Linked DNA regions of Homo sapiens: all the other regions are reported to be linked to region 2. The links are microRNA targets in miRTarBase. Many come from high-throughput screens and were not tested one by one. Region 2 holds a microRNA gene; each other region holds the end of a gene's coding sequence.
What was found. The annotated mature microRNA hsa-miR-371a-5p reads ACUCAAACUGUGGGGGCACU and lies in region 2 at 1,048-1,067, opposite strand. An mRNA with a match to its seed (bases 2 to 7 or 8) in the 3' UTR can be bound and repressed. Matches are read on the target gene's strand: a 7mer-m8 pairs with bases 2 to 8, a 7mer-A1 pairs with bases 2 to 7 and ends in A, and an 8mer does both.

Region 1 (4,089 bases), not on the chromosome of region 2:
TGGGCGCGCCGCAGGCCCCGGCGCCCGCCACGGCCACGGACACCTTCGAGGCGGCTCCGCCCGCGCCCGCCCCCGCGCCCGCCTCCTCCGGGCAGCACCACGACTTCCTCTCCGACCTCTTCTCCGACGACTACGGGGGCAAGAACTGCAAGAAGCCGGCCGAGTACGGCTACGTGAGCCTGGGGCGCCTGGGGGCCGCCAAGGGCGCGCTGCACCCCGGCTGCTTCGCGCCCCTGCACCCACCGCCCCCGCCGCCGCCGCCGCCCGCCGAGCTCAAGGCGGAGCCGGGCTTCGAGCCCGCGGACTGCAAGCGGAAGGAGGAGGCCGGGGCGCCGGGCGGCGGCGCAGGCATGGCGGCGGGCTTCCCGTACGCGCTGCGCGCTTACCTCGGCTACCAGGCGGTGCCGAGCGGCAGCAGCGGGAGCCTCTCCACGTCCTCCTCGTCCAGCCCGCCCGGCACGCCGAGCCCCGCTGACGCCAAGGCGCCCCCGACCGCCTGCTACGCGGGGGCCGCGCCGGCGCCCTCGCAGGTCAAGAGCAAGGCCAAGAAGACCGTGGACAAGCACAGCGACGAGTACAAGATCCGGCGCGAGCGCAACAACATCGCCGTGCGCAAGAGCCGCGACAAGGCCAAGATGCGCAACCTGGAGACGCAGCACAAGGTCCTGGAGCTCACGGCCGAGAACGAGCGGCTGCAGAAGAAGGTGGAGCAGCTGTCGCGCGAGCTCAGCACCCTGCGGAACTTGTTCAAGCAGCTGCCCGAGCCCCTGCTCGCCTCCTCCGGCCACTGCTAGCGCGGCCCCCGCGCGCGTCCCCCTGCCGGCCGGGGCTGAGACTCCGGGGAGCGCCCGCGCCCGCGCCCTCGCCCCCGCCCCCGGCGGCGCCGGCAAAACTTTGGCACTGGGGCACTTGGCAGCGCGGGGAGCCCGTCGGTAATTTTAATATTTTATTATATATATATATCTATATTTTTGTCCAAACCAACCGCACATGCAGATGGGGCTCCCGCCCGTGGTGTTATTTAAAGAAGAAACGTCTATGTGTACAGATGAATGATAAACTCTCTGCTTCTCCCTCTGCCCCTCTCCAGGCGCCGGCGGGCGGGCCGGTTTCGAAGTTGATGCAATCGGTTTAAACATGGCTGAACGCGTGTGTACACGGGACTGACGCAACCCACGTGTAACTGTCAGCCGGGCCCTGAGTAATCGCTTAAAGATGTTCCTACGGGCTTGTTGCTGTTGATGTTTTGTTTTGTTTTGTTTTTTGGTCTTTTTTTGTATTATAAAAAATAATCTATTTCTATGAGAAAAGAGGCGTCTGTATATTTTGGGAATCTTTTCCGTTTCAAGCATTAAGAACACTTTTAATAAACTTTTTTTTGAGAATGGTTACAAAGCCTTTTGGGGGCAGTAATTGGCTTTTGTTTTTTATTTTTTTACTTTATTTTGGATTTGTAGGATTTTGTTTTTGCGTTTCTGGTGTGTAGGGGGTTGTGTGTGGGGGGCTGCTGTTATTTTTGGAGGTTTTGGTGGTTGGGTGGGGGTGTTGCAGCTGGTTTTTCTGCCTCCTCTGCTACTCCCCCTCCCACACACACAGGGTCTGCTTGAGATGGGGTTCCAGCCCCGGGGGAAAGGGGAGAAGAGTAATGGGTCAGGCATTCAGGCTGACTCAGAGCCCCTAGGCGCCGGGACGGGTGGCTGGGAACCCTGCTTGAGAAGAGATTCCGGAGCCTCTGGCTGGTCCCGAGTGTCAGGCTTGGGTTTGGAAGGGCTGGGAGGTCTGTGACCCCTGCCCTGTGTTTGGGGACTAGGTAGGCAGGCCTGTGACTGTAGGAGGAGGGGGTTCAGGTCTTGGTCCTGCTGAGCCCGAGTCAGGGCAGATGCTTTTGGTCAGTGTAGTGGGGTGGGTTGTTTAAAACACAGTTTGTGTATACATGTGTATTTTAAAGAGGGGAGCCTGGGTGTGTGGGCGAGTCTGTGTTTGTGTGTCCCTGGCCAGCAGGAGGGGAGAGGCCAGGCCAGGTGGAGAGAGGTGGGGGAGGGGTTCCCACACTTTGATTACCTTTCCTGAGGATGGGAGGCTCATCACTTGCTCTCTTTGCCCAGACTTGGACACTGAGCCCACCTCACCTGCCTGCTCAAGGTGGCTGAGCCCAGGCACAAACGTGGGGCTGCTAGCCCTGATTCCCTGGGACAGGCTCCTCTTCCCTGCCCACTGATCCCTTTGCCCCTTCCGGCTTCTCACCGCACCCCCTACTCCCATCCAGCCCTGGATGGCATTCCTGAGAGTTGAGGATGTAGATGGATGTGAGTGGATACATGTACAGCGTCCCACAGTGCCTGGCACGCAAGAAGTGTTATATAAGCGCTTGCTCTTGTTATTATTTTTTGCTGGGAAGCTGCTGGCATTTGGCACCCCAGTCTCCAGTGCAGCGCCAGTGTGGCCAGTACTTGCCAGGGGCCGGCATCTGGTAAACACTGGACCTGCCCCATCCCATTTAGACCTCACAATAACCTTTGGGAAGGTGGGGATTGTTATGACGCCTGTTTTTAGAGGTGGGGAGCAGCTTTGGGCTGTCCGATCCCTATGGGCAAGACACTGGTTGGGGGTTGCCCTGCCCTGAGGAATTCAGGGGCAGCAGGCATCGTAGCCTGGTTTGCCAAGGACCTGGGGCGGTCTGGGATCTCAGGAGCAGTTGCTGATACCGTGGTTCGCGAATGGGAAATGCTTTGCCCCTCCTTTTCCTTTTGGGGGCCTGGTTGTGCTTTCCCTGTGGGAGCCTGGGATGTGGGGAACAGACAGCGACACTCATCCCCCACCGCCACAAAGCGGAGGATTCCTATAAGCTCCACCTCCCTAATGCCAGTGTCTCCTGATGGTGGCTCGAGGGCTATGCAGATTGCTGGACACAGATAACCTCACTTCAACCTGGGACCTGCAGCGTGGCCCTGACCACGTCCCCTCCCAGCCCTGGGCAACTGGACAACTGGCCGGGCATGCCTTCAAAGCCTCGAAGTCAGTTCAGTCCCAAGCCCCACTGGTCTCGATGGTTTCTGTCAGTAGCAGCGACAGCAATGTGGGCTTGACCTCAAGGATTTACTTGCTGAAGGCAGAGGCTGAGGGGCTGGACCTAGGGAAGGAGGGAGGTGGAGAGGGTCGAAATTGAGGAACAAATCTCAAATCCCTGCTCCCTCCTTTGTCACCAAGAGTTGGCTGGTGGCCACTGCTCACCCAAATGAGGTGAGAGGGAAGCAGCCTGGCCAGACGGTGCCCCTCTTCCGCCCCCGTCTGCCCCACAGCTTCGCTTCTGTTTCCCCAGTGCTGTCCTGGAACCAGCGTTGAGTCAGTTCTTCACACACTCACATCTTGCTCTCATCCACAGTACCCCACAGAAGGTGCTAGACCCATTTCTAAAAGCACACATTGAGGTCCACAGAAGTGAGGTTTGTGCTCAAGGTGGGCTAGGTGGAGCAGGTTACAAAACCATCCGACTCCCAAGTCTATGGGGAAAGTTTGGGGCTGGGAGCCTGGTTTGTAATCCCAGTTCCTGTTTAAAATCCCAGGCTCTTCTTGGAGGGCTCCTTGCCTGACCTCAAGTTCAGGCACTCCAAGCCCCAGAACTGCAAACATCAGTTTCACAGTTTGGAAGCAACAGAAAGTGAATTTGAACCTGAACCCCTTGGGCTGCCTCTAAGGAGGGCTGGGAGAAGCAGTTCACAGGTTGAGGGCTTTGACGGTGGCTTGGTATGGGAGCACTGTGGACGGAGCTGTGCCCAAAGGACTTGGGGAGATGTCATAGTTAGGGCAACACCAACCCCACAGTTCACCAAGCTGCAAGGGTGAAGGGCTCGCAGGGAGGAACCAGTCCATTCCGACATCCAGAAACAGGAGGGGGTGGGATGGGGTGAGGCGAGCCCAGGAGGCCAGGGACGAGCCTTGAGGAATCATGATAATAGCAGGTGTGAGACAAGGGCTTAGATGTGCAAAGCACCACTCCAAGCCCTTGGCACAGAGGGAGGTGCTGGGTCCTTAGATATGTGGGAGAAAGCCGGTCATGTTAACCACAGACCCATTTAGTGTGTTTGACCA
Region 2 (4,089 bases):
CAGTACAGACAAAAAGGAAAGCGCCCCCATTTTGAGTATCCCAGTATGAGCTCCTCGCGAGGATCTGCCATCACTGTGACTTTCTTGCCTACAAGAGGTTGGCCTCCAATCATCCAAGCACATGTTAAATGTCAGCAATAAACTTGCTTGCTATGGGGGAAGAGGAAAGTTACATATCAATTATAACACCAACAGCAAAAAGCATTCCTTTCTTTGTGCATACAGCCCCTTGGTCACAGCTGCTGTTTTTTTTTTTTTTTTTCTTTGAGAATGAGTCTTGCTCTGTCGCCCAGGCTGGAGTGCGGTGGCGCGATCTCGGCTCACTGCAAACTCCGCCTCCCGGGTTCACGCCATTCTCCTGCCTCAGCCTCCCAAGTAGCTGGGACTACAGGCGCCCGCCACCACGCCCGGCTCATTTTTTGTATTTTTAGTAGAGACGGGGTTTCACCGTGTTAGCCAGGATGGTCTCGATCTCCTGACCTCGTGATCCGCCTGCCTCGGCCTCCCAACGTGCTGGGATTACAGGTGTGAGCCGCCGCGCCCGGCGCAGGCGCACAGCCGCCCTCTGAACCTTCTCTTCCTTTCACCATCTAACCCAGATTCCCTTAGTTGTGTCAGGTGAGAGCCCAGGAGGCCCCCTTCCCTTCCCCAGGTTTTCCGGAGCCATTACAGCCAGACGCTGTAAGGGACCTGTACCCAAGACAGTTTCCGGCTGGGAATCGAAACCACAGGCTCTTTAGTTCCTGCAGAAGACCGAGCTCCACGGCATCCGTTGATATGGGCGTCACCGGTGACGCTCAAATGTCGCAGCACTTTCCACTTGGACATCAGAATAGTGCTCCACATTTGAGGCCCACAGGGTGAGCAGCTCCATCTGCAAGAGCCCCGGCCAAGAAATTTATATCACGAGGAAACGGCCATAGGCAGGGTCTAGGGCCATCCTGCTACCCGCCCCCTCACCCAATCAAAATGGTATCTTCTCCGCAGGTTGAGTCTTCTCAAGCGGTAACACTCAAAAGATGGCGGCACTTTCACCAGAGAGCAGAAAGTGCCCCCACAGTTTGAGTGCCACAGGCTGAGGGGATGCGGCAAGGCGGCGATCGCAAGTGGAAGCACTTACCCATCAGAAGAGGCTTTTAAGCAAGGAGGTGGAGAGTAGCCCTTGATGAGCTGTTGAAGGTCTACAAAGCACGAATTTAACGACCCTTTCTTAAAAAGTAAAAAACAAGGCTTTCCACGTATAGATATTCAAAGCACTCCCCCGCCCATAGCCTCCAGATGCAAGCCATGAGGACTGAGTACAATGCAAGTAGGAAGGAACACGTGTGAGGGACAGTGGGGCCTTCGTCCTTAAGACTGAAAAAAAATCACAGAAATAGAACAAAAGTACAGCCCGGCTGGGCGGAGTGGCTCAAGCCTGTAGTCCCAGCTACTCGGAAGGCTACGGTGGTAGGATTGCTCTTGAGCCCAGGAGTTCGAGACCAGCTTGGATAACATAGAAAACCCCATCTCTCCTAAAAAAAAAAAAAAAAAAGCAGAAAAACGCACATGGGAATGGTGGTGCGCGCCTGTGGTCCCAGCTACTGGAGGCTAAAAGGGTGAGTCCCAGGAGGTCGAGGCTGCAAGGCGCCATCATCCTACCTGTGCACTTCATCCTGGGCGACAGTGAGATCCTGACCCTAAAAAATAAAGTAAAATGAAAGAAAATAAAATAACATAGCAATACTCACAGAGGCCAATGATACGTCCACACCTCAGGTCTGCCAGAAAGAACAAGGTTCACTGCAGCTGCGTTCTTATATAGGGTGAGAGCCCACTCAACTTTGATAGGATTAAAGCCCACCCCTTCCCACCCTCTCATTCCCCCTGGTCTCCGCCCCAAGCCACCCTGCTCCCTTTGATCCTAGCTTGCCTTAGTCAGACACACCTTCATAAACTTTTTCAAACACTGATTCAAATAGAAATTAGGTGATCCCTATTACTAGTAACGCCAACATGTATTCGTTATAAATACATTGGAAAACACAGAGAAATAACCAGAAGAAAATCATTCCACCAGTCATCCACTCAACAAATATTTAAATATAGTATTTTGGCAGAGCGCAGTGGCTCACACCTGTAATCCCAGCACTTTGGGAGGCCGAGGCGGACGATCACTTGAGGCCGGGAGTTCGAGACTAGCCTGGGCAACATGGCGAAACCCCGTCTCTACCAAAAAAATACAAAAATTACCCACGCATGGTGGTGTGCACCTGTAATCTCAGCTGCTTGGGAGGCTGAGGCAAGAGAATTGCTTGAACCCGGGAGGCAGAGGTTGCAGTGAGCCAAGATTGTGCCACTGCATTCCAGCCTGGGGACAGAGTGAGACCGTGTCTCAAAAAATAAATAAATAGGCTGGGCACAGTGGCTCATGCCTATAATGCCAGAACTTCAGGAGGCCGAGGCAGGCAGATCACGAGGTCAAGCGATCGAGACCATCCTAGCCAACATGGTCTCTACTAAAAATACAAAAATTAGCTCGGCGTGGTGGTGGATACCTGTAGTCCCAGCTCCTCGGGAGGCTGAGGCAGGGGAATTGCTTGAACCCAGGAGGCAGAGGTTGCAGTGAGCCAAGATCGCCCCACTGCACTCCAGCCTGGGTGACAGAGTGAGACTCCATCTCAAAAATAATAATAATAAATTTTAAAAAAATAAAAAAGCTGGGTGCGGTGTGGCTCACACCTATAATCCCTGCTACTCAGGGGGCTGAGGTGGGAGAATCCTTTGAACCCTGGAGGTGGAGGTTGCGGTGAGCCGAGATCACACCACTGCACTCCATTCTGGGCGACAGAGTGAGACTTAGTCTCAAAAAAAAAAAGAGAGGGAGAAAAGAAAAAAACAGTGCGGCAGTGAACATTTTTGAGAGCAACTTTGATAAAAAAGCGGAAACATTTCTGATTTTATTTAATGAAACCACTAGAGTTCCTTTGACCTTGAGGCATAGAGAGGAACTCAAAAAGGTGGGTGTTGGAGAGGTGAGGAGGGGCTTGAAAATGGTAAGTGCTCAAAATAATGAATGACTCAAGGAAGGGGAAGACTTGGGGCCCCAGGAGGCCAGGGTTTCCTTCCCATTTGTAATCCTAGCCAGCTGCGGGAGTACGTGCTCAACCTTTCTGGTTAAACCTAGTTCCTTCATCAATGAAAATGTACAGCATTTGCTGCAAAGGATGGCGAGAGATAGAAATGAGACAGCAAATAGCATGTTTGGCGAGAATCGCTAGAACCCAGGAGGCAGAGGTTGCAGTGAGCTCACATCACGCCACTGCACTCCAGCCTGGGTGATAGAGCCAGACTCCATCTCAAAAAAAAAAAAATTCTTGCTTTGATCTTTGTCAAGGTTGCGGGAGGTCAGTGCTTATGTCCTTACAGCTCAGCCATCCAGATTCCTATCTAACCTACTCACTCCTCTCACACTGCACCTGGATTTTCTGCTATTTGTGAACCACCTGGATGATCTCTCGGGTATTTCCTAGAACTCGGCTTTTTCTCATCACCTCATTTTGTCTTTGCAAATTTCTCCTTTAAGGGCGGCTTTCTTCTCCTGCCCTTGGGCCAGCACAGCGAGTTCATTGCTGACTTTTTTTTTTTTTTTTTGAGACGGAGTCTCCCTCAGCCACCCGGGCTGGAGTGCAGTGGCTCGATCTCGGCTCACCACAACCTTCGCCTCCCAGGTTCAAGTGATTCTCCTGCCTCAGCCTCCCGAATAGCTGAAATTACAGGCATGTGCCACCACGCCGGCTAATTTTGTATTTTTAGTAGAGACGGGGTTTCTCCATGTTGGTCAGGCTGTTCTCAAACTCTCAAACTCAGGTGATCTGCCCGCCTCGGCCTCCCAAAGTGCTGGGAATACAGGCGTGAGCCACCGCACCCGGCCAACGTTTGTATTTTTGAATATAAAAAATGTTATTAGTGCAATTGAATTTAATCAACATTCAACAAAGAGTATAGTCAAAGACGATTTTTAAGTGCATTTGAAAGAGGACTGCAGGCAGTGGCTCAAGCCTGTAATCTCAGCAATTTGGAAAGCTGAGGTGGGAGGATCTCTTCAGC
Region 3 (4,089 bases), not on the chromosome of region 2:
ACTTCACTTCATTTCCTTTCCCTTTTGACAATAATCACCAGGAATCCTAGGGGTGACAAGATGCCATGGCTTCCTCAGATTAAAATTCTCAGTGTCATTAACAGAGGTGGCTTCACCTCCTTCTGCCAGCAGGGTTGTACAGATCCATTATGAGCAAACAGAGCAAGGGCCTGGAGAATGCGAGGCTTGGGAATACAGGACCCAGTTGTCACCTTCCATGTAAGTCTCAGTGTGACAGGTGACAAGGTGGGCAGCCTTGTAAGATGCTCCCCACCAATTCCCTCCCTGAGAATAGGCTGGAACTAGTGACTGGCACCTAACAGACAGAGTGCAACAGTGATGAAGTTATGAGAGACTGCGGCTTTTGTCTTGCTCTCGTTCTCTCCAGCTGTCCTTGCTTGTGACCTTTGATGGAGACAGCTGCCATGTCGTAGGCTGCCCTGAGGACTACTCCGTAGCATGATGAAGGGCAGAGGGCGATCTTTAGCCAATAGCCATAAGAAACCAAGATCCTTACTTAGCCTGACAGTCTGTGAGGAACTGACTCCTGCAACAACTATACGAGTGAGCAGGGAAGCAGGCCCTCCCCCAGTGAAGCCTGGAACACACCTTCACTGCAGCCTGCAGAGACATGGACTGCAGCCTGGAGAGACGCTCAGGACTCAGCTCAGCCATGCGCAGATTCCCGACCCACAGAAACTGTGATGAAATAGATGTGTGTTATTTTAAGTGGCTACGTTTTGAGGTAATTTGTTATGGCACATTAGAAAACTAATACACCTTGATAAATAATGTGCTTAAAGAGATAATAAATCACTACTGTTAAGTCTAAAAGGGCATTTGTAAATTATTTATATAGGATCAACTAAGCCAATGGAGGTTATATCAGCTTCAAAAAGGAAAACCAGAACTTCAAAATCTGGAGCCGCTGGGCGCAGTGGCTCACGCCTGTAATCCCAGCACTTTGGGAGGCTGAGGCAGGCGGATCATGAGGTCAAGAGTTCGAGACCAGCCTGACCAACATGGTGAAACCCCGTCTCTACTGAAAATACAAAAATTAGCCAGGCGGGGTGGTGCATGCCTGTAATCCCAGCTACTCAGGAGGCTGAGGCAGGAGAATCGCTTTAACCTGGGAGGCGGAGGTTGCAGTGAGCCAAGATTGCGCCACTGCACTCTAGCCTGGGCAACAGAGTGAGACGCTGTCTTGAAAAAAAAAAAAAAACACATACACAACAACCAAAAGACAACAACAACAAAAGTGAGCTCTTCCTAGGCACGGTGGCTCTTGTTTGTAATCCCCCCAGCACTTTGCGAGGCCATGGCAAGAAGATCACTTAAGCCCAGGAGTTCAAGACCAGCCTGAGCAACATAGGGAGACTCTGTCTCTACTAAAAATTTGAAAAGAAAAAAAAAACAAAACTGAGCTGTCTCATTTACATGAAATGTTCAAAATAAGCAAATCTATAGAGACAGAAAGTAGATTCGTGGTTGCCATGCCAGATGAGAAAGAATGACTGCTGACAGGCAGCGACTACTTTTTGGGGTGATAAAATGTCCTGGAATTAGATCATTGTGGTGGTTATGCAACCTTGTGAATGTACACTTTAAAATGGGACATTTTTATGGTTTCTGGATTTGATTTCAATTTAAAAAAAAAATTTAAGTGAGCTCTTATGGAGGGAAGCTAACACTTCCATTTAACATCTCCCCAAATAGTTATGTTCCATTCCCGCACCCAGGATGATAGACTTGCACTGCTCGAGGAGGACACATAAATGACGGTGTGACACTGGCCTGATGACGCAGCTCAGATCTCATTCCAGGTTTGTTTGGGGGTTTCTGCATTGCATCTTCCAGGAAAATTGCTAGCAAAAGTCCTCCCTCAGTAAATATGTTTGTCTTTTTCAATGTTTTTGTTGTTACAGATGTTAGATCCCTGTTCTTAAGACTTAAAGGACCGGGCATGGTGGCTCACCCCTGCAATCCCAGCACTTTGGGAGGCCGAGGCAGGTGAATCACCTGAGGTCAGGAGTTCCAGACCAGCCTGGCCAACATGGTGAAACCCCATCTCTACTAAAAATACAAAAATTAGCCAGGTGTGGTGGCACATGCCTGTAATCCTAGCTAGTTGGGAGGCTAAAGAATGAGAATTGCTTGAACCCGGGAGGCAGAGGTTGCAGTGAGCTGAGATCACGCCACTGCACTCTAGCCTAGGCGACAGAGTGAGACTCCGTCTCTAAATAAATAAATAAATAATAAATAAATTTTAAAAAAGACTTATGACAATTTTTACCTTATTTCATAATACTTAACTGGCCACTCCTTGCTATGAGCTACAAGGTAAGAAAACTTATCAAATGAAACATTTACAGAGGAAGACATCTTTTCAAAATCAATATTTCATTTCAGCATCTTGTTATTTATTTTTCATTATTTTAAAAAATTATCATTATTATTTTCTTTTCTTTTTTTTTTTTTTTTTTTTGAGATGGAGTTTCACTCTTGTCATCCAGGCTGGAGTGCAATGGCACGATCTCGGCTCACTGCAACCTCCGCCTCCCAGGTTCAAGCGAATTCTCTTACCTCAGCCTCCCTAGTAGCTAGGATTACAGGCATGCACCACCAAACCCAACACATTTTTGTATTTTTAGTAGAGATGAGGTTTCACCATGTTGGCCAGGCTGGTCTCAAACTCCTGACCTCAGGTGATCCACCCACCTCAGCCTCCCAAAGTGTTGGGATTACAGGCATGAGCCACTGTGACCAGCCTATTATTATTTTCAAGACAGGGTCTCACTCTGTTGCCCAGCCTGGAGTGCAGTGGTGTGATCATAGCTCACCGCAGCCTCAATCTCCTGGGCTGAAGTGATCCTTCTGTCTCAGCCTCCCCAACAGCTGGGAGTATAGCGGTGCAACACCACACCCAGCTTTGCTATTTATTTAAATGTCATTCTCCAACACATATGGGGAATGACATATGCTTCCCATTATTACATGGCAAAACATACTCCATATCCAGAAAAAATATTTATATGACATATGGCCTAGTATTCTAAATCAAGGCAGGATCTTCCAACAAGAGCAGGAGAGAGAAGAAAACATTTACATTCTATAACATGATTATAAGAATTGAGATAGATGAAATGAAAAACAACATCTTTGAACAATTACAGTTGACAGAACAGCTTTCCCTTATTCTACTTGCTTTAAATAACTCATATCTGTAAACTTGAACACCAACTCTGGCTGATTTAACAGTCTTAATCCCTTGATTTTCCATACTGAACATCACCCAATATATAGTGAAGATCAAAGGCGACTTCTTCCACCAAGCTCTGTGTCCAGCTGTGTTTCTGAGGTCATACGTGTCCCCTCACGGACACCAGATCAGATACTTCGGTAGTCAGAGCCGCGGGCTACAAAGGCGGCAGCTTCCCATTCCACAGTGAAGAAAGAAATTGTTCCAAAAAACCCAAATATCACCATGACCAGGAGTTGCCAGTGAAGGAGAAGGTAGTTGCTGTAGAAAAATGCCACGGCTGCGCAAATAGACTAAGAACAAACAAAACAAATCACAACGGGCGCACCGGGGGCCACACTGAGCCACAGTTAGCCCCTAGCCCCACTCCTATCCTGCCCCAAGGACACCTGGAACTCACAGTGCTTTCTATTCTTTCTGCATCAAGGTATGACTTCCTCAGTCACTGACTCACAAACATGCACCATAAACTCCTGCCACAGTTCCTGGTATTTAAAATAGCATTTTGGCCAGGTGTGGGGGTTCATGCCACCCAACACTTTGGGAGGCCAAGGTGGGAGAAATGCTTGAGCCCAGGAGTTCAAGACCAGCCTGCACAACATAGCAAGACCCCATCTCTACAAAATAAAATAAAATGAAACAAAAATAGCATTTTGTGGAAAACTGGAGTAACAAGAATGTACAGAGTAAGAAATACACTTGTCTGTATTACAAATGAATAGAATTCTGGTATCTAAGGAAGGAAATCTCTAATCAGAGCCATAGAGACCAGAACATAAAATCTGTTACACAAAAAATCTTACTGCTCATTGCTTCCTAATTCTAGTCAT
Region 4 (4,089 bases), not on the chromosome of region 2:
AAGTCATCTTCCTCCCAGTGTGGAGACTCTCTAAAGAGATGCTGATAGTGCACTGGGAGAAACCCAGATGTAAATGGATGTGTACATACATGCTGGAGTTTAAAAATATGAGCATGGGCTGGGCACAGTGGCTCACGCCTGTAATCCCAGCACTTTGGGAGGCTGAGGCAGGTGGATCACCCGAGGTCAGGAGTTCGAGACCAGCCTGGGCAAAATGGTGAAACCCTGTCTATTAAAAATACGAAAATTAGCCAGGCATGGTGGCACACACCTGTAGTCCCAGTTACTCAGGAGGCTGAGGCAGGAGAATCATTAGAACCTGGGAGGCAGAGGCTGCAGTGGGCTGAGATCGTGCCACTGCACTGCAGCCCGGGTGACAGAGCAAGACTCTGTCTCAAAATAAATAAATAAATAAATAAATAAATAAAATAAAAAATAAAAATATGAGCATGAACTCTTTGATGCTATTGCCTTCAAAAGGTACAGCTTAATTCCCCATCCCTTCAGTGTAGAATGGACTTAGTGACTCACTTCTAACAAATCAAATTCATTGGAAATGATCGTGTGCAACTTCAGAGACTGGGTCATGAAAGGCCTTGTGGCTTCCATCCTCTCTGGGATCACTCATTATGGAGAAAGCCAACTGCCATGTCAAGAGAACACCCAGGTAGCCTTGTAGAGAGGCTCATGTGATGATGAACTGAGGCCTTCGGGCAACAACCATGTTAGTGTGCCATCTTGGAAATGAATACTGCAGCCCCAGCATCAGCTAAGCCACACACAGATTCTTGATTCTCAGAAACTGAGTGAGCTAATAAGATGTGTGTTGTTTTAGTTTTGGGGGTAATTTGTTACACAGCATACATAACTACTACAGTGTGTGCTTATGGATGAAGTGAAGTTTCATCACTGTTTCTAGACCTTACACTGTTCAACTGGTGAAGATCCATCATCTTGCCCGAAGAGCTAGTGCCAGATTGCAATAAGATGATTTGATAAAATGGTTTCTCTCTTTTCCCTGCCCAGTTACTACCTCATGTCACATGGATGTCTGGGTTCTCCTTACCACTTAGCTTATTTGTCTAGAATATTTGGGATGCAGTTTGAGTGTAGTCTCAAGTGAGATAGAGTGCCACTAGAAGAAGGCTGACAGCCTGGCTATGCAGAAGCCCCAAAGAGTGAAGTTTGCAATAATCTGTCCGGGCTTTGGTTCTCTATCCTGAAGAATCAGAAACTATGTTTCATCAGAATATTTAGAAACTCATAGGCTAAACTGACAAACTTGGGGGCAGAACCACACACACAAAATTCACATGAGACTGACATATAAACCAGAGAATTTCTCTAAATTTACTATGTGCAGAATGAAATGTTGGTGCCCTCATGCAGAATTCTCCCTTTTCCTGAACAACAATAGCTTAAAAGGCCATATCAACAATCAGAAGATGGTTCAGTTAGGCTTGTAATTAGTGCCAAAAGAAGTGGCAAGTCTCAAGGTATGTTCTCCCTAAGCCACATACCTTGGGTCTTGATAAACTAGTCCTAACTGAAGTAGAGAACACTTTTGGTCACTGAATTACTCACATCTCTTGGATGCAGGACTTCCTTTTCACGGATAACACTGTATACACACTGTCATATTTTGTTTCTTCAAACCCCATTTTGGTGAGTTGATAATTTCGGTTTTCTTTTCTCAAATGAGTTAATATCATGTAATAACCTACAGTGTACCTGGGAAGCATTGAGACTCTCCTCACTATGTGTAGACTCTCTGGTGGTTTCTTCTTATCAAGTCCTTAGAAGGTATCTCACTGCTGCCCCACATAGTACCTGTGTAGTTTGGAGAGGCCATTTACTTAGCATATCAGAGCCTGTCCAAAGAGAATACATTAGAACCAGTAAAGAATTTCAAAGACTGTCTTGTAATTTCTCATTTCTTTTATCTAGAAAATTTCCATGATCAACAACATTCTGAACTGATCACCAGGGGGTTGAAAAATGAATAAATAGCAGTTAACAGAAATAGGGTATTTATGTTCTCCTTTTCAAAAGCTCAATGTTTCATCTGCTACAGTATAGTTTTCCAAGTTTAGTCATGAGTATTCTTACCAAAATCATTCCAATTTCGAATGATTACGCTAATTTGCACTGTCAGTTTCAGAAATTCAAAAATATATTTTTTTCTATTCACAATTAAAAATTAAATTTTGAGTCAGGAGTTTGAGACCAGCCTGGGCAACACAGCGAGATCCTGTCTCCACAAAAAGTTAAAAAAAATAAAAAAGCTAGGCATGGTGGCTTATGCCTATAGTCCCAACTACTCAAGAGGCTGAGGCGGGAGGATCACTTGAGTTTGAGGAGGTCAAGTGATCCATGTGAGCAGACTGTGCCACTGCACTCCAGCCTAGGTAATAGAGTGAGATCCTTGTCTCTAAAATAAATAAATAAAAATTAAATTTTGAGAGAATATCTTAGTATTTTAGTATCTTAGTATTAGTCAATATCTACTAATTCAAAAGTTGAGAAGTATGTTCCAGTAAATTTATGCACTTGAATTATTTTAAAAATTTGGAATTATAAAATTCTCAACATTTTGCTCACTACATAGACAACAGAATAATAAAGCTCAATGATTAGTGATTAGCACTATGCTAAAATATTAATAATTTCATAAATTTGTATAATTTCAAAATTTCTTTTAGTTTCATTGTCCTCAGAAACCCAAGAATGCCACTAATTTGTATTCTACTGAAAACATCTTTCCCTGATTACTTTTGTTTTACCAAAAAGAAAAAATTGTACTTTTCTTAAAAACAAAGTGAAGTCTAAATTAATTCAATAGCTACTGAAATTCACCTGAAATTTTAAACAGCTACAAATCCACAAGAGGAAAAAGTAAACACATTAGCTTTAATACAACTAGTACATAATAAAAATTAAGAGAAAAGATTAATTCAAGGAGAAAAACTGATTAAAGTATGCTTACTAAAGGTCCTGTTATCAGCATTTTTATTCAGTTTAGTCTATGCTAGAATATAAATACATGACAGTATGTCTTTTCTTGTCAAGGGTAGCCTTTTACATAACTAAAATTTGTGGCTAGCAGTTTATATAACAAAAGAAAAGCTAAATCTGTAAATTATCAGAAAAGAACCAAGGATATAGGAAAATAATACATTTATATAAATTACAAAGGACAGTTACAATGAAACTCCATTAGTTTCCTCTCAACCCAATTTTACAAAATAAAGTGAACATGTATTATTCTGTGAGTTGTTAAGAGTACATAAACACTGTGGGCCCATTCAAAAGACAGTGGTCAAAGACAAAATGTTATCTTCATGTTATACACTGTTCTTAGTTCTTTACTGGAGTTGAGCTTCCTTTCATAGTCTTCTTTAGGTGGTGGTAATTTGGCAAGATTTTCATCAAGAAATCCAGCTGTAGTGTCTGGGGCTAAAAAGATAAGGTAATTAAGGCCGATTGGCAGAAAGCAAAGTCAAGAGTACCACACAGCAACCAGGCGTGGTGGGTCATGCCTGTAATCTCAGCACTTTGGGAGGCCCAGACAGGAGGATGATTTGAGCTCAGGAGTTCCAGAACAGCCTGAGCAACATAGGGAGATCTTGTCACTAAAAAAATTTAAAAATTAGCTGTGTGTGGTGGCACACCCCTGTAGTCATAGCTACTCAGGAGGCTGAGGTGGAAGCAGGGCGGCAGGGGTGCAGGTGGATTGTTTGAGCCCAGGAGGTTGAGGCTGCAGTGAGCCATGATTACACCACTGCACTCCAGCCTGGGTGACAGAGCCAGACCCTGTCTCAAAGAAAAAAAAAAAAAAGTTCCAGGTAGCAATGGTTATTAATAAGTTGTGGAATTACAGGTGCTTTTCATTGACTCATTTTTGCTTACATGCTTGTTTTTTTTTTTAATTTATAAGGAACATATACTAAGTTTGGTTACAAGAAAAAGCCAACAGATTTTATATATTTATATAAAAATATACAGAAATCAGTTTTAAAACTCGCTTTTGTAGATTTCACCCTGGCTTCTGAAAAGTTAAAAGTTCCGATTACAGAAGACCACATAAGT
Region 5 (4,075 bases), not on the chromosome of region 2:
CTTCATTACCAGCCTTTAAGAATCAAGCTGCCATGAATTGTATGGCCACCAGGTAATGATTCTGACAGCAACCTGAAGGAGCTTAAAGGTTGATCCTTCTCCAATCAAGCCTCCAGATAACAACACCAAAATTGCAGTAAATTGCAGGTTTGTGAGATCCTGAGCAGATCCAGCTAACCTGTGCCCAGACTCCTGGCCCACAGAAGCTTTGAGATAATAAATATATTTTAGGCTTCTAAGTTTGTGGTTATTATTTATTTATTTTTATTTTATTATTATTATTATTTTTTGAGATGGAGTTTCACTTTTCTTGCCCAGGCTGGAGGGCAATGGTGTGATCTCGGCTCACTGCAATCTCCACCTCCCGGATTCAAGCGATTCTCCTGCCTCAGCCTACGGAGTAGCTGGGATTACAGGCATGCACCACTACACCCGGCTAATTTTTGTATTTTTAGTATAGACGGGGTTTCATCATCTTGGTCAGGCTGGTCTCAAACTCCTGACCTCAGGTGATCCACCCACCTCGGCCTCCCAAAGTGCTGGGATTACAGGTGTGAACCACCATGCCTGGCAGTAATTTGTTAAATAGCAATAAAAAAGCTAATAGTGCAAAGTCTCAATTAAGTAAGTAGTGTCTTTTAAGGTCCTCAAAGAAGTAAATGTTGAGAATCACCCAGGTTTTTTAAAAAGTCTGCTTTTAAGACAATTATTTCTTTATGGTAGAGAGAAATGTAGGGAGAGAGAGAGAGACAGAGAAAGAGAGAGAAAGTCCTGACACTGAAAAATAGCATTCTTTATTTCATAAAGGCATCAAATTTTGATTTTGTAGCCCATAGGTATGTAAGGAAATGGATATAAAATAACAATACTTTTATGATCTGAGGGGCTCAATATAGTTATGTATTACTTACTATTTTTAGTATGTATACATTCAAAAATGTCTGTACTTTGGTGATCAAGACACACATACTATTTCCAAGTTTGATCTATTCAGCGCAAACTGGGATTTTAAATGCTATCTGTATCTTAAGATATAAAATTATTACAAGGTAGAAAGTCATAAATAAAAGTTCACTTCCAAAAATATATTACTAATCTGTTTGTCATGGTTGTGTTCTTCAGCCACATGATAAAGTAATTCCCAATCTACTTGATTCAAATTTGGTTTATCAAATGCCCTTCTAGAAAAATGCATTTTCATAACAGGTTGTCAATTAATGGAATTCACCAGTAATACATATTTGAGAACTTTCAAGTTAAAAAAACACTTTTCAATTTTTTCCCTAGTAAATTATATCAGAATGAATCACTATGCACCAGAAGTTTCTTCTAAAGCCTGACTGAAGTCATAAATTAGTCTGAAAGTTATACTGTGAGAAATTTACCCACATTTCTACTAAACAAAAGCTAATTTTCTTACAGCTTGTGAAATATAGAACATGACATACCCTTCCTTCCTGTACTTTGGTTAACCAGTACTTTTTTCTTTATTCTCAGAACATACCTCGACTCTAATTCTTACCGCAAACTAAAGTGATGCTTGCTCCGTCCCTTCCCTGCCCCTTTTTTGCATTTGAGGTCTACTGTCATACAGCAGTGTTACACTTCTGTATTAAAATCACAAGAAAAGCAAATGATCTATGGTCTGCTTTCCCGTATGACCTATGTCATTCTGTGTAGTTCTCAAAGCATTTTTTCACCTTGTAGAAGATTTCAAAGTCATCTTTCCTCAAATAAATGTGGTGTTTCCTTCCCCTGGACTTTGTGAAATAGGATAACAAGAAATGCTGAATTCATATAAGTAGACCTTTAACAGGATGATTCTAGACTATGATGAGAAATAAGCAATACCAGTTGAATCATAACTGGTTTGCAAGCTCTTGTTGAAAATAAATGCACTGCTAATCATGTAGTTATTAAAGAACCTATGTCTGAAACTTGTATATGAGGAACAGAGAAATGTTTGTTTTCCTATTTACCCAAAGAAATGCTCTTATCTGTGCAGCATCTATAATTGTACATTTTAAGTATTCCTGTTGGGTGGAATAAAAAGTACTGTGATGATCACTAAACAGAACCAAAAGAGTAAAAGATATCTGGAATAGACTAGAGCAAGGAAGAACTGGCTTCCAATTTTAGCCCTGCCACTGACTAGCCTTGTGACCCTGAGAACATTTCCAAATTCCTGACTTGTTATCTGTATGCCTAACACCTACTATATAGTAATTGTGAGGATCATACGTAAAGTGTCTTTAGCCAACTAGGTACTCAGTAAATGGTAGACAGTATTGCTATCATTTCTGTGAAAGGTGTGACACCCTGCCTTTCATATGAGTGACTGTCATGCACAGGCCACTGGATGTTTCTCAGTTCAAAGAGTTAATAGAAGGCAAGTCCCAACTAGAAATCTTTTCATACTTTATCATTTCTTTCTCATCTTAGATGCTTCCTTACCCTACCCTCTTTTATCTCAAAATAACTCATTTCTTAAGCAGAAGTTTAATTAAATTTAGCAGCTCTACTTAAATTGAAGTGTTTCTATTTCTCCCAAACACACACACACACGCACAGAGAGAGAGAGAGAGAGAGAGAGAGAGAGAGAGAACTTAAAATCAGCAGACTATTTATTACATAGTCCAGATTGTCTACTCTAGAATATAGGTTATGAATAGCTGTGCCACCAGAACAGAGAATTCATAGACTTCAATGGATATTAAATAAAACATGGAGTAATTGAAAGGCTAGAAGTAATGTGATACTAACATAACCAATAGGCAAAAGACTGCTGAGGTGATAGCTATTTAGAATATAAGATATAAAGTGAGAAGTAATATGAAAAAAACTACAGGAGGGAAGTCCTTTTCCCAACCCTCAGTTTTGGATGTTAGACATTTGTAGAAAAAAAATTACAAAGCTGTAGGATTCGGAGAGTTCTAGACTTGCCATTAATGTTCAGGCAGAACAAAAGCTGAATTGGGCAAAAAACACGACATCCCCACCCATTTTGTTTAGACTGTCTATAAAAATGACTTTATTATGATCTTTGCAGCACCCATCTCAGACCACATCTTTCCATGGTTCTCATGAACCTTAACCCCTCCTATTAAATCTTATACTTCCCGCTTTATTGTCACTATAGATGTGAGAAACAGCTGATGGTCATCTTTGTTTACAAGCCATTACAGGTTTGAACAAATTCAAAATTGCCTATTATTAAGCCTCCGCAGGAGCTACTGGGCATAAGCAAACCTAAGATTTTATAACCCAGCAATTATCCTATAGAAAATAGTCCAGATTATTATATTCTGCCACACCTTTATTCATACTTGACTCCAAAAAGTTCTCAATTATTCACAGGGATAATCTAGAAAATAAATATTAGTTTTGCTTTCAAAGACATTACTGGAATGAGCAGGAACCTGCATCTTTGTTATATTAATTAACTTATTATTTAGTTTTCCTGTCTGCTTAGAAATTGGCTGTTTAGGTTGAAAAATGATTTAAGAAGCATAAACTATAACACAACAATTTAAATAAAGGTCACTATTGCTGTGAAATGGGATGTCAGTTTTGCAATTCTTCTGCACTTTCCCACCAAGCTGGGATCTGGGTGAGTCTAGAGATATTTGTGAAATAAGCTAATTTGAAAGGACACCACAATCCGTCAAAAGCGACTTTCTTCCTCTTCCACAGCACGATGAAGGCCAGGGATAAATTTCAAGAGTTGCTTTCGGACACTTCCCTTTCTGCTCTTCCGGGGCAGGGTCCCAAACATGCTTGATAAGTTGCCCTCCCACAAGGGAGACATGGATCCGCTGCTGGTGTTACTGATGCTCCGGTTCCTCCTTGAAGATGACCTCCTCAGAAAATCATCCCCCTCCTTGGGGATAAAGCACTCATCATCTGTACTCGTCTGCCGACTGAAGGCACCCCTGCTGGAGTCCTCAGACACACACGTCTGGTAGCCATCTTCACTGTCCATCGTCATGGAGCTCAGCCAGCTCTTACAGCTGCTCTCACTGGATAATCGATTCCGGTCCACAAGGGCTGGGCCTGGCCCAGGCAGGGGTCCAAA
Region 6 (4,089 bases), not on the chromosome of region 2:
TATTGAAGCCTTACACCTTTTTATACTGTAGTCAACCATCCAAAAGTAAGAAGGCATTTCCCCCTCTAATAACTTTCTCTGCAGTTATCAGTCAGTTAAAAGAGCCCATGTAGTTTTAGAATTAGAGATATAGGGTGGAAAAGATAAAATACTAATTTGAGGTGTGCGTGTGTAGTGTCAGGCTCCGTACTTGAGAGCCAAAGGTTTAAGAGTCTTGATTTTATGCCAGGGATGCCTTCACTGAAACTCACCCAAATAGCAGAAGACTGTTTTCATCAATTTACTAATATCAATGTTATCTAGCACCACATGTTTTCTTTGTCCTATTGATTTATCATGCGATATTGCTTTGATGTGTTCTGTTGTTACTTTGCGCCTTTGGGGTTCCACATGCCTTCGTGGGAATCTCGGGGTGCAAGTAACACTGTATAAACGAAAATACTTTGAAAATTGCAGTGTAAACAAAACTAGCTCAGATGTTTGACACTTTGTTTGAAGTCTTTATTTCTCTTGTTTTCTCTCAATAGGAATATACAGATGTTGCCACAGGAATCTAATCTGAAATCGTACAAATGGAAATGACGCTACAGGAGGATGTTTGGGAGCATCTCTCTCTTTTTGTCAGGAGTTAGAAGTGACACTAAGGCACTAATACTGTAACTTCTTGATAAAATAACTTTATTTTTTAGTAGTGGAATGCTGCAACTTTTTTACACCTAACAATTGCTTTTAAATTACAGTATTCAATTTAAAAGTTGTATTAACTACAGTTTCCTTTGCAAAAAGTCTCAAAAGAATCACTTGAAGGGCATTATTTGTTGATGCATTTTTCTCTGAGCATGGTTTCATAGAGAGAACTTCACCAAGTAATATTCAGACGTTTATATGTTGAAAGTTTTGCTTACATAATAAAAACAAAAACAAGTGTCTGAATTGTATAGTGTCTTTACATGAAAGAACTTTAAACAGTGGCCTTATGGTAGAAAATTTTATACCAGATTTTTCTTTTTCTGATGACATTTTGGCTTATAACTCGAAGTTTTCTTAAGTTTCTGAAGATCAAGGCCTATATAATTCATACATTTCATATTATAAGAAGGCAAGAGACAAGGTGCTTCAAATATTCCATCAGGTAGTTGTGAGTGCACTGAATTTTTAGTAATATGTTCATTCAGTTTTTTTCCACAACTATTTGCTCTTTTCCAATTTCAAAATGCTATTGTGGAAAATATGTAAAGATTTTGTAATCTATAGTCCATCTTATTTTTCCCTCAGGGCAAGCTTGTGCATATCATATTTTTAAAGGCTTTTTAAAAATCTGACAAACAAAATCTCATATTTGAAAATTGTACTTTACTACTACAGCATTACACATTTTGCAAGCACATCTTATAGAGTGTTTACTTTTAGTTCAGTTGATATGTATTGCATACCTACTATGTGTAAGAGCAAATGGATGGGATTTTTAAATGAAATTTTTAGGCCCCAATACCTTATTTCTTTATGTTTTCTGTGTTCTGCTTAACAGTACATATACATTCCCAATTACATTTTTGTGAAATGTTTATTTGTAATAAAATAAAATGTTGTTGCTCTTTCTGCTTAAATAAGTTACTTGCCAGTTTGTGAGAGCATTATTTTAATTTTGTTTGAGACTTATAGCCTTGGATAGCACCTCTGTTTAAACAGTGTTTAAAGCACTGTTCTGTGCTTACAAAGACAGAGCTTTCAAAATTAAAATGTGAAGGTTGATAAGAACTTGGTTTTTCATGACTGGATGTGAAAAATCTTAGTACATTCAGTTTTCTTGTCCATATCTTTAAAAGAGAGGGCAGCCTTTTCCTTAAGTGAGTTCATGATAAGGGGGGCAAGTGCACTTGATTCATTGCTAAGCAGGTAATAAATTTGGGTAGATGGCCTGTCTTGTACTGTGTACAATCTCTATAGGTCAGGTTTTCCAAACATATTTAGCATTCCACTTATGGTAAGAAAGAAATGCATGCACACAGGTAGTATGGCAACTTTATATTGTGTTAGGTACTTATAAAATCTGTCTTAAATTTTAAAATAATTGATTTCATTTACTCCCATATTCTAGGGGACAGTAATGAGCTTTGAATATTTAATCATTTGATTGACAACTATGTATTGCACAGATACTGTACTAAAATTACAGCAATGAACAAGAAGACAAGACACATGGACCCTGCCTTTATGGTACGAAGAGTCTAATAGGAAAAATGGACATTAAACAGAAATATAACTTGGTAAATCGCCTTTATAGCTCGCTTTTTATTTATTGTAACACATAAAGGTAAGATGGCTGATTTACTATTATTCATTCCACAACTGATTCCCTATTTGGATATTCTTTTGGCACTGTCTCAATATGCAAAGCGTGTTATCTGCAAAATACCTGTGCAGAAAACATTGTGTGTATAAGATCTAAAGCCTAAAAGGAAAAACCAACTTTATAATTTAGAGTATAAAATAAGGACAGGGACCGTGTCTGTCTTGTCCACCATAGTATCCCCAGCACCCAGCTTCCTATTTGACGTGTGGTAAGAGTTCATTAAATATTAGTTGAATAATGAATGAATAAATAGGGAATAATAGAATATGTTTATTAGGAACTACATGTGTAATTTTCATATGGAGATTGAACAAAAGGTTATCCATAGCATTTTTTATTGACTGGAAAGAATTTGACTTCTTGAATGCATAAGACTTGAGAAGAGAAGTTTTTTTTTTTTTTCTTTTTTTTGATAAGTCCCCTACCATTGCCTCCTCACCTTCCTCCACTACGTGCTAGGCCCTTCGCTGGTACTGGGAAGACAAAGATAATAAGACACAGTCCCTGCTGTGAGGAAGCTCATGCACTGCTGAAGAAGAGATTCACAAAAACAAAGAATCACAATGTAGAGTAAGTACTTTAGTGGACATATATACAAAAGGTTGAGAGGAAAGTTGACATTTCTGATTCAGCATCCCCTCGTCATGTTTCTTTCCTATTGGTTTCACCAACCTCAGAAGGCACTATTCTGTTGGTGGTTTTACTGGTTTTAAAAATTGATGCATTGGGGGAAACTGGGTAAATTGTACGCGGGATCTCTCTGTATTATTTCTTTTATAGCTGCATGTGAATCTAGAGTTACTTCAACATAAATTTCAATTTGAAGAATTGCCCATAGTCTTATCACAGAGAACACTATTATAAATATTTTAGATGATACATTTTCATTTTTTTCTATTGGAAAAAAACTCGCTACATTTATGTGTAACAATTTATGTAGATGTATACTATGTACCACATTTTACCTAATAAATCCTACATTTTTGAATAGTTTTTTTTTTAAAAAAAAGACGGGGATACTTCCAGGCAGAAGCAAGAAAAGTAAAGCTGGATGAGAAACTCTTATTGTCTTTATTACCCAGCAAATTCAGTAACCACCAGGCACAAATTCACCAGGAACAACCAAGCAAGGAAGGAAGAAGAAGCTGATGCAACAAGGTGTGGTATGACTTCATCCCTCGCCCATCCCCAGAAGTAGCACTGAGTAAAACAATGGAGATGACAAAAATATTGGTAACAGTGGGCCCCAGTATGGACAAAGGCACTGACGAGGTGACCAGGCCACGTGGAGGAGAGTCAAGGAAAACTCTTGGGACAACGAAGTCTTTGCTTCCATCTCAGGACCTCAGCAGAAGGGGTAAGATTCACCAGGACTAGGCATTTCCCAGGTCTCAGAGCAGCCTGGGAAAGCCAAATCCTGCAGAAGTCAGAGACACCTTTGACTGTGTCTAGTGAGTTCTGGTTCTGGACATTTAATGGGAACCTAGAAGAGAGGGGATACCAGGTTCCCCAACAAAGTTCCGTCAAATAGGATGATTATGAGCTCTGAGTCCATTAAAATACAGAATGAACATTTAAGAACTGAGGAATCATAGATGTAGAATAGTATGTAAATGTTATAAATCTTGACAAAGAAAAATTAATGTACATTGACAAATTCAGACATGGAGGAGGTAAAGTGGGATAAAGACTTAAGAACTAACCGTCTCATCATTCATGGCCAGGTGTCATGTCAC

Region 1: the mRNA of CEBPB is a reported target of hsa-miR-371a-5p. Seed matches in the 3' UTR shown: 7mer-A1 at 1,378-1,384.
Region 3: the mRNA of MFSD11 is a reported target of hsa-miR-371a-5p. Seed matches in the 3' UTR shown: 8mer at 2,686-2,693.
Region 4: the mRNA of DCTN6 is a reported target of hsa-miR-371a-5p. The part of its 3' UTR that is shown has no 7-base or 8-base seed match.
Region 5: miRTarBase lists CYTIP as a target of hsa-miR-371a-5p. The part of its 3' UTR that is shown has no 7-base or 8-base seed match.
Region 6: miRTarBase lists BCLAF3 as a target of hsa-miR-371a-5p. Seed matches in the 3' UTR shown: 8mer at 1,648-1,655.

What each region holds. Positions count from the first base shown.
Region 1 is chr20:50,191,278-50,195,366 of GRCh38, forward strand. It overlaps CEBPB (CCAAT enhancer binding protein beta), which reads left to right. Exons shown (of 1, transcript NM_005194.4): 1 at 1-1,391. The coding sequence ends at 794. It overlaps CEBPB-AS1 (CEBPB antisense RNA 1), which reads right to left and starts at 792. Exons shown (of 7, transcript NR_125739.1): 1 at 387-792; 2 at 1-145. RefSeq lists silencers at 1-365, 786-895 and an enhancer at 2,260-2,821.
Region 2 is chr19:53,784,658-53,788,746 of GRCh38, reverse strand. MIR371A (microRNA 371a) reads right to left here and starts at 1,072; the gene lies at 1,006-1,072. It overlaps MIR371B (microRNA 371b), which reads left to right and starts at 1,005; the gene lies at 1,005-1,070. MIR372 (microRNA 372) reads right to left here and starts at 857; the gene lies at 791-857. LOC124904767 (a long non-coding RNA gene) reads left to right here and starts at 522. Exons shown (of 2, transcript XR_007067336.1): 1 at 522-860; 2 at 988-1,725. It also overlaps MIR373.
Region 3 is chr17:76,777,651-76,781,739 of GRCh38, reverse strand. MFSD11 (major facilitator superfamily domain containing 11) reads right to left here. Exons shown (of 13, transcript NM_001242532.5): 13 at 2,399-3,552. The coding sequence ends at 3,388. Among named protein-coding and RNA genes, the nearest start is that of LINC02080, 19 kb to the left of the region's middle.
Region 4 is chr8:30,182,442-30,186,530 of GRCh38, reverse strand. It overlaps DCTN6 (dynactin subunit 6), which reads right to left. Exons shown (of 7, transcript NM_006571.4): 7 at 2,892-3,456. The coding sequence ends at 3,358. Among named protein-coding and RNA genes, the nearest start is that of DCTN6-DT, 28 kb to the right of the region's middle.
Region 5 is chr2:157,412,013-157,416,087 of GRCh38, forward strand. It overlaps CYTIP (cytohesin 1 interacting protein), which reads right to left. Exons shown (of 8, transcript NM_004288.5): 8 at 2,607-4,075. The coding sequence ends at 3,665. Among named protein-coding and RNA genes, the nearest start is that of CYTIP, 30 kb to the right of the region's middle. RefSeq lists an enhancer at 1,690-1,739.
Region 6 is chrX:19,913,773-19,917,861 of GRCh38, reverse strand. It overlaps BCLAF3 (BCLAF1 and THRAP3 family member 3), which reads left to right. Exons shown (of 12, transcript NM_001367774.2): 12 at 528-4,089. The coding sequence ends at 557. Among named protein-coding and RNA genes, the nearest start is that of SH3KBP1, 28 kb to the right of the region's middle.